Regions from separate parts of the Homo sapiens genome. Here region 2 is linked to region 1. The links come from fine-mapping of genetic effects on gene expression. A gene starts in region 1. The other region holds a variant in brackets. All regions are shown on one strand. Distances are from middle to middle. Region 1 holds the start of ABI2 (abl interactor 2). Region 2 has its middle 64 kb from the start of CD28.

The links.
Region 2: its variant is fine-mapped to the expression of ABI2 in whole blood (TOPMed, PIP 0.99).

The regions. Positions count from the first base shown.
Region 1 is chr2:203,326,725-203,329,624 of GRCh38, forward strand. ABI2 (abl interactor 2) reads left to right here and starts at 1,670. Exons shown (of 12, transcript NM_001375670.1): 1 at 1,670-1,907. The coding sequence starts at 1,791. RefSeq lists an enhancer at 557-1,527 and silencers at 1,329-1,668, 1,425-1,612, 1,889-2,238.
Region 2 is chr2:203,640,928-203,643,827 of GRCh38, forward strand. No RefSeq gene overlaps it. Among named protein-coding and RNA genes, the nearest start is that of CD28, 64 kb to the right of the region's middle. The variant C/G (reference allele first, on the strand shown) is at 1,244.

The DNA of each region.
Region 1 (2,900 bases):
ACATTCTGCTAATGTATGTATCATGAAGCCAATATAACATTAGGGTTTGCTCCAGATATTTGTAATGATATGGTATTAAAGTGATTTTTTTTTTTTTTGAGACGGAGTCTCGCTCTGTCGCCCAGGCTGGAGTGCAGTGGCACGATCTCCGCTCACTGCAAGCTCTTCTCCCAGGATGACGCCATTCTTCTGCCTCAGCTTCCCGAGTAGCTGGGACTACAGGCGCCCGCCACCATGCCCAGCTAATTTTTTTATTTTTATTTTTAGTAGAGACGGGTTTTCACTGTGTTAGCCAGGATGGTCTCGATCTCCTGACCTCGTGATCCGCCCGCCTCGGCCTCCCAAAGTGCTGGGATTACAGGCGTGAACCACCGCGCCCGTCCTAAAGTGATTTTTTTTTGAAAGTATAAGTTTCCTCATCATCTGAATGAAAAAAATTCACTGTAGGAGGGCCAAGAGATCACCAGATTAAGAAAAGTGTTGAAACAATGGATCTTGTTCTAACTACACAAGTCTAAGATGGTACTGCCTGGAATCAACTTTGATTTTCCACAGCACAAATAAAGGTCATGGCTTCATATCTCAGCAATGGTCAGGAGTTTTAGTTTTTCCAGATTACATTGTGTGGGGTAGTCTGATTTAGGAAAACAAGACACAGTATCTGGAGAATAAAAACAGAATTATAACTCTGCAAGAGGAAAATTATCTGCCTTGAATTTTTGTAGCACTTAATGTTTTTTCAAGGTATTTTCACAATAAACGTTGATTTTATCTATGTAACAGCCCTGTGAAGAAGGCAATTACTACTAGCAAAATCGTTTTCAAAATTTTAAATACTGAATCCATGAATAGGAAAAAGGACAGCGAAGTTGATAGCATTAGAGAAATGACAGAAAAGGTTATGAGTGAGGAAGCGAATCATAGAAATGGCAAACATAAAAAGCTGAGGCCCACGGCACCGCAAACCAGGAGAGAAAGGGGCTAATCTGGCAGGGGAGAACAGCGTTAGTGGGGAAGTGCAAAGAGGCAGGGGCGCAGGAAAGCTGGGGTTAGGAAACTGCAATTCACTGCAACAAAGAGGATGAGGTCAAATCTGAGAAAAATGAAGTCAGGTGGCATTGAAAGCTGCGTGGAAGTTTTATTCCTGCCCTGTTGAGGTGTGATCTTTCACAGAGGAGGGTCCCAAGAGTGGAGGCTGTGCCCTCCTTCGGCCTCCCGTCAGCAGCAGAGGGAGAAAAGCCTCGAGAAGTTCCCTAGGCCGATGACCTCCATGGGGACGGAGCCGAGATGAGTCCCGGAGGGAGCCGGCAGGAAGCCAGCTGAGCAGGGTGGTGTGTTCCCGCCGGGCTAACAAAGGCCGCCGGGAGGTGGGGGCTTCTCCAGCCGCTCCAGCGGCGGGCGGGCGGCGGAAGGGTTAACTGCACCACCAACTCCCGCGCGCATCCCGGCCCCTACCCCCGCCGTCGCTAGGAGACGCCGGAAGTGGGGGAGGGGCCGGCGGCGCGGGCGAGGGTGGGAATCTTTTTCGGGCTCCCGGGGGCGGAGGGAAGGGAGCGCGCGTGCGCGCGCCCGGCCGGCCGTCGCCGCGGTGACCGTCCTCGGAGTCCGTCGGCTCGCGCCCCGCCCCCGTCGCCCCCTCCCCTGTCGCGCGCTGGGGCTGTTTCTCGCTCCTTCCGAGTTACCGCCGCCGTCGCCGCCGCTCCTCCTCTCCCGGTCCTGGGTTTCCTTGGCGCTGCGGCCGCCGCTCCCTCTGCGACCTGTATGAGGAGGAGGAGGAGGAGGATGTGAAGATGGCGGAGCTGCAGATGCTGCTGGAAGAGGAAATCCCGGGGGGCCGCCGGGCCCTCTTCGACAGCTACACAAATCTGGAACGGGTGGCCGATTACTGCGAGAACAACTACATACAGGTGCGAAGCATCCCCAGCTGGGCCGCGTCGGGGACCCCCCCGCCGGGGGCCGCGCGCCTCGGGGCGTGGGGCCGAGGCCGCCTCGGGGACACGGCCCAGCGGAGCCCCCGATGGGGGTGGGGAGCTGGGTGAGGGCTGGGGCTGGTGAATGGGTGGGAATTCTCCGGCTGGAGAAACTGCATTTTAAAAACCTTTAAAAAAGCGGTGAAGCAGTTCTCGGCGTGGTGCGTGTGTCGCGTCCCGCCTCCTCGCCGCTCCCGCCCTCGGCCGCCCCCGCACTCCGCGCCGGTCAGCGTTCCGGATGGCGGAGGGGGCGGAGAGTGGCATTTTCTGTTTGACGGAATCCTGCTCCCCACCTTAGGGTAGGGGTGTCGCGGGTGTTGACGGGTTACCTCCATCCCCCAAATTCTGGATGATTTTTAAGGGGTTATCTTGCTGCAGAGTGAAGTGCTTCAGGCTTCAGTTTTCTGTTCCTGTGAATGCTTCAGAAACCCTTTCTTAATATTTTATGTTCTAAAGGGGATACGGTAGAAGAGCAGCAGTTTCTTGTTGGAAGTTAATGCCATTTTTTTCCCTATGGAGAAGGATGATGAGCTGATTCCCCCCTCCCTCCTAGTTCTGTTAGAATAGGCAGTTTTCCTGGGGGTGGGAGGAGGACAGACTATGACTGTTTCTTAGAGAGAATTGGGAAGATGAACCTCCTGGTTTAATTTTTTTTTTTTTTTTTTTTTTTTACCGTGATGGATCGTTTGGCTCAAGGGCTGATAGTGGTAGGGGCGTGTGTATGGAGGCGGGGGATACCGGATGGTATGAGATCCAGCTGCTCCTGGATGAAGCAAAATATTCTGTGGATTAAAAAAATCCTTCTTTAAAAATTACTTGAAAGGATAGCAGGTTAAAAGGCACAGTTTGCAAAATCTAAAATCTTTTGCTTTTTTTTTTATGGTTATTTTGAATTATGGGTTCTGCCTCCATTTTTTTTCTTTCCCGTTT
Region 2 (2,900 bases), 310 kb after region 1:
AGCCTCCCGAGTAGCTGGGACTACTCGGGAGTCCCAGCACCCGCCACCACGCCTGGCTAATTTTTTGTATTTTTAGTAGAGATGGGGTTTCACCGTGTTAGCCAGGATGGTCTCGATCTCCCGACCTCGTGATCTGCCCGCCTCGGCCTCCCAAAGTGCTGGGATTACAGGCGTGAGCCACCACGCTTGGCTCCGATTTCCTTTCTTTTGGGTATATATTCAGCACTGGGATTGCTGGATCATATGGTAGCTCAATTTTTAGTTTTTTGAGAAACCTCCAAACTTTTCTCCATAGTGGTTGTACACAGTGTATGAGGGCTCCGTTTTCTCCACGTCCTCACCAGCATTTGTTACTGCCTGTCTTTTGTATATAAGCCATTTTAACTGGGGTGCTATATCTCCTTGTAGTTTTGATTTGCATTTCTCTGATGATCAGTGTTGTTGCACCTTTTCCTGTTCCTGTTTGCCATTTATATGTCTTCTTTTGAAAAATGTCTGTTCAAATATTTTGCCTATTTTTGATTGGATTAGATTTTTTCCTATAGAGTTGTTTCAGCTTCTTATATATACGGGTTATTAATCCCTTGTCGGATGGGTAGTTTGCAAATATTTTCTCCCATTCTGTGGGTTGTCTCTTCACTTTGTTGATTGTTTCCTTTGCTGTGCAGAAGCTTTTTACCTTGATGTAATCCCGTTTGTCCATTTTTTGCTTTGGTTGCCTGTGCTTTTATGAGTTTTTGCTCAAGGAATTTTTGCCCAGACCAATGTCCTGGAAATTTTTCTGATTTTTTCTTGTAGTAGTTTCATAGTTTGAAGGAGTGGATATTCATATTCCATTTTTTGTAGACGAGAAAATATAAAAAGGGTGGCCAGGCGCGGTGGCTCCCGCCTGTAATCCCAGCACTTTGGGAGGCTGAAGTGGGCGGATCAGGAGTTCAGGATGTGTCCGGAATTGGTGGGTTCTTGGTCTCAATGACTTCAAGAATGAAGCCGTGGACCCTCGCGGTGAGTGTTACAGTTCTTAAAGGCGGCGTGTCCGGAGTTTGTTCCTTCTGATGTTCGGATGTGTTCGGAGTTTCTTCTTTCCGGTGGGTTCGTGCTCTCGCTGGCTCAGAAGTCAAGCTGCGGACCTTTGTGGTGAGTGTTACAGCTCTTATGGCGGCGCGTCTGGAGTTGTTCGTTCCTCCCGGTGGGTCTGTGGCCTCGCTGGCTTCAGGAGTGAAGCTGCAGACCTTCGCGACGA[C/G]TGTTACAGCTCATAAAGGCAGTGTGGACCCAAAGAGTGAGCGGCAGCAGGATTTATTGCAAAGAGTGAAAGAACAAAGCTTCCACAGGGTGGAAGAGGACCCCAGCAGGTTGCCACTGCTGACTAGGGCAGCCTGCTTTTATTCTCTTATCTGGCCCCACCCACATCCTGCTGATTGGTCCATTTTACAGAGAGCCAAGTGGTCTGTTTTGACAGGGTGCTGATTGGTGCAGTTTACAATCCCTGAGCTAGACACAAAGGTTCTCCACCTCCCCACTAGGTTAGCTAGATACAGAGTGTGGACACAAAGGTTCTCCAAGTTCCTACCAGAGTAGCTAGATACAGAGTGTCGATTGGTGCATTCACAAACCCTGAGCTAGACACAGGGTGCTGACTGGTGTATTTACAATCCCTTAGCTATACATAAAAGTTCTCCAAGTCCCCACCAGAGTAGCTAGATACAGAGTGTCCATTTGGTGCATTCACAAACTCTGAGCTAGACACAGGGTGCTGATTGGTGTGTTTACAAACCTTGAGCTAGATACAGAGTGCCGATTGGTGTATTTACAATCCCTGAGCTAGACATAAAGGTTCTCCAAGTCCCCACCGGACTCAGGAGCCCAGCTGGCTTCACCCAATGGATCCCGCACCAGGGCGCAGATGGAGCTGCCTGCCAGTCTGGCGCTGCAGTGTGCCCGCACTCCTCAGCCCTTGGGTGGTCGATGGGACTGGGCGCCGTGGAGCAGGGGGCAGCGCTCGTCGGGGAGGCTCGGGCCACACAGGAGCCCACGGAGGGGGCGGGGGGGAGGCTCAGGCATGGTGGGCTGCATGTCCCGAGCCCTGCCCCACGGGAAGGCAGCTAAGGCCCGGCGAGAAATTGAGCACAGCAGCTGCTGGCCCAAGTGCTAAGCCTCTCACTGCCGGGGCGGCGGTGCCGGCCGACCGCTCCGAGTGCGGGGCCCGTGGAGCCCACACCCACCTGGAACTCGCGCCGGCCCGCAAGTACCGCACGCAGCCCGGTTCCCGCTCGTGCCTCTCCCTCCACACCTCCCCGCAAGCTGAGGGAGCCGGCTCTGGCCTTGGCCAGCCCAGAAAGGGGCTCCAACAGTGCAGTGGCGGGCTGAAGGGCTCCTCAAGTGCCACCAAATTGGGAGCCCAGGCAGAGGAGGCGCCGAGAGTGAGCGAGGGCTGTGAGGACTACCAGCACGCTGTCACCTCTCAAGGAGATCGAGACCATCCTGGCTAACACGGTGAGAACCCGTCTCTACTGAAAATACAAAAAATTAGCCGGGCGTGGTGGCGGGCGCCTGTAGTACCAGCTACTCAGGAGGCTGAGGCAGGAGAATCTTGTGAACCCGGGAGGCAGAGCTTGCAGTGAGCTGAGATGGCGCCACTGCACTCCAGCCTGGGCGACACAGTGAGACTCCGTCTCCAAAAAAAAAAAAGGGTAAGTTTGCTCAAATTCACACACACTTGGTAAATAACAGGGTCAGGCGTTGAACTAAGATCATTCCAACTCTATTCTGAACGTAATTCTGAAAAGAGGCTGTTAAAAGTTTAAGAAAGTAGAGCTCATAGGCTGAGTGAATTGCCCAAGATCATGTCAAATCCACTGGTCTCCTAGCCCACCACACTTCGTTAAAATGTAGTTTTTGAA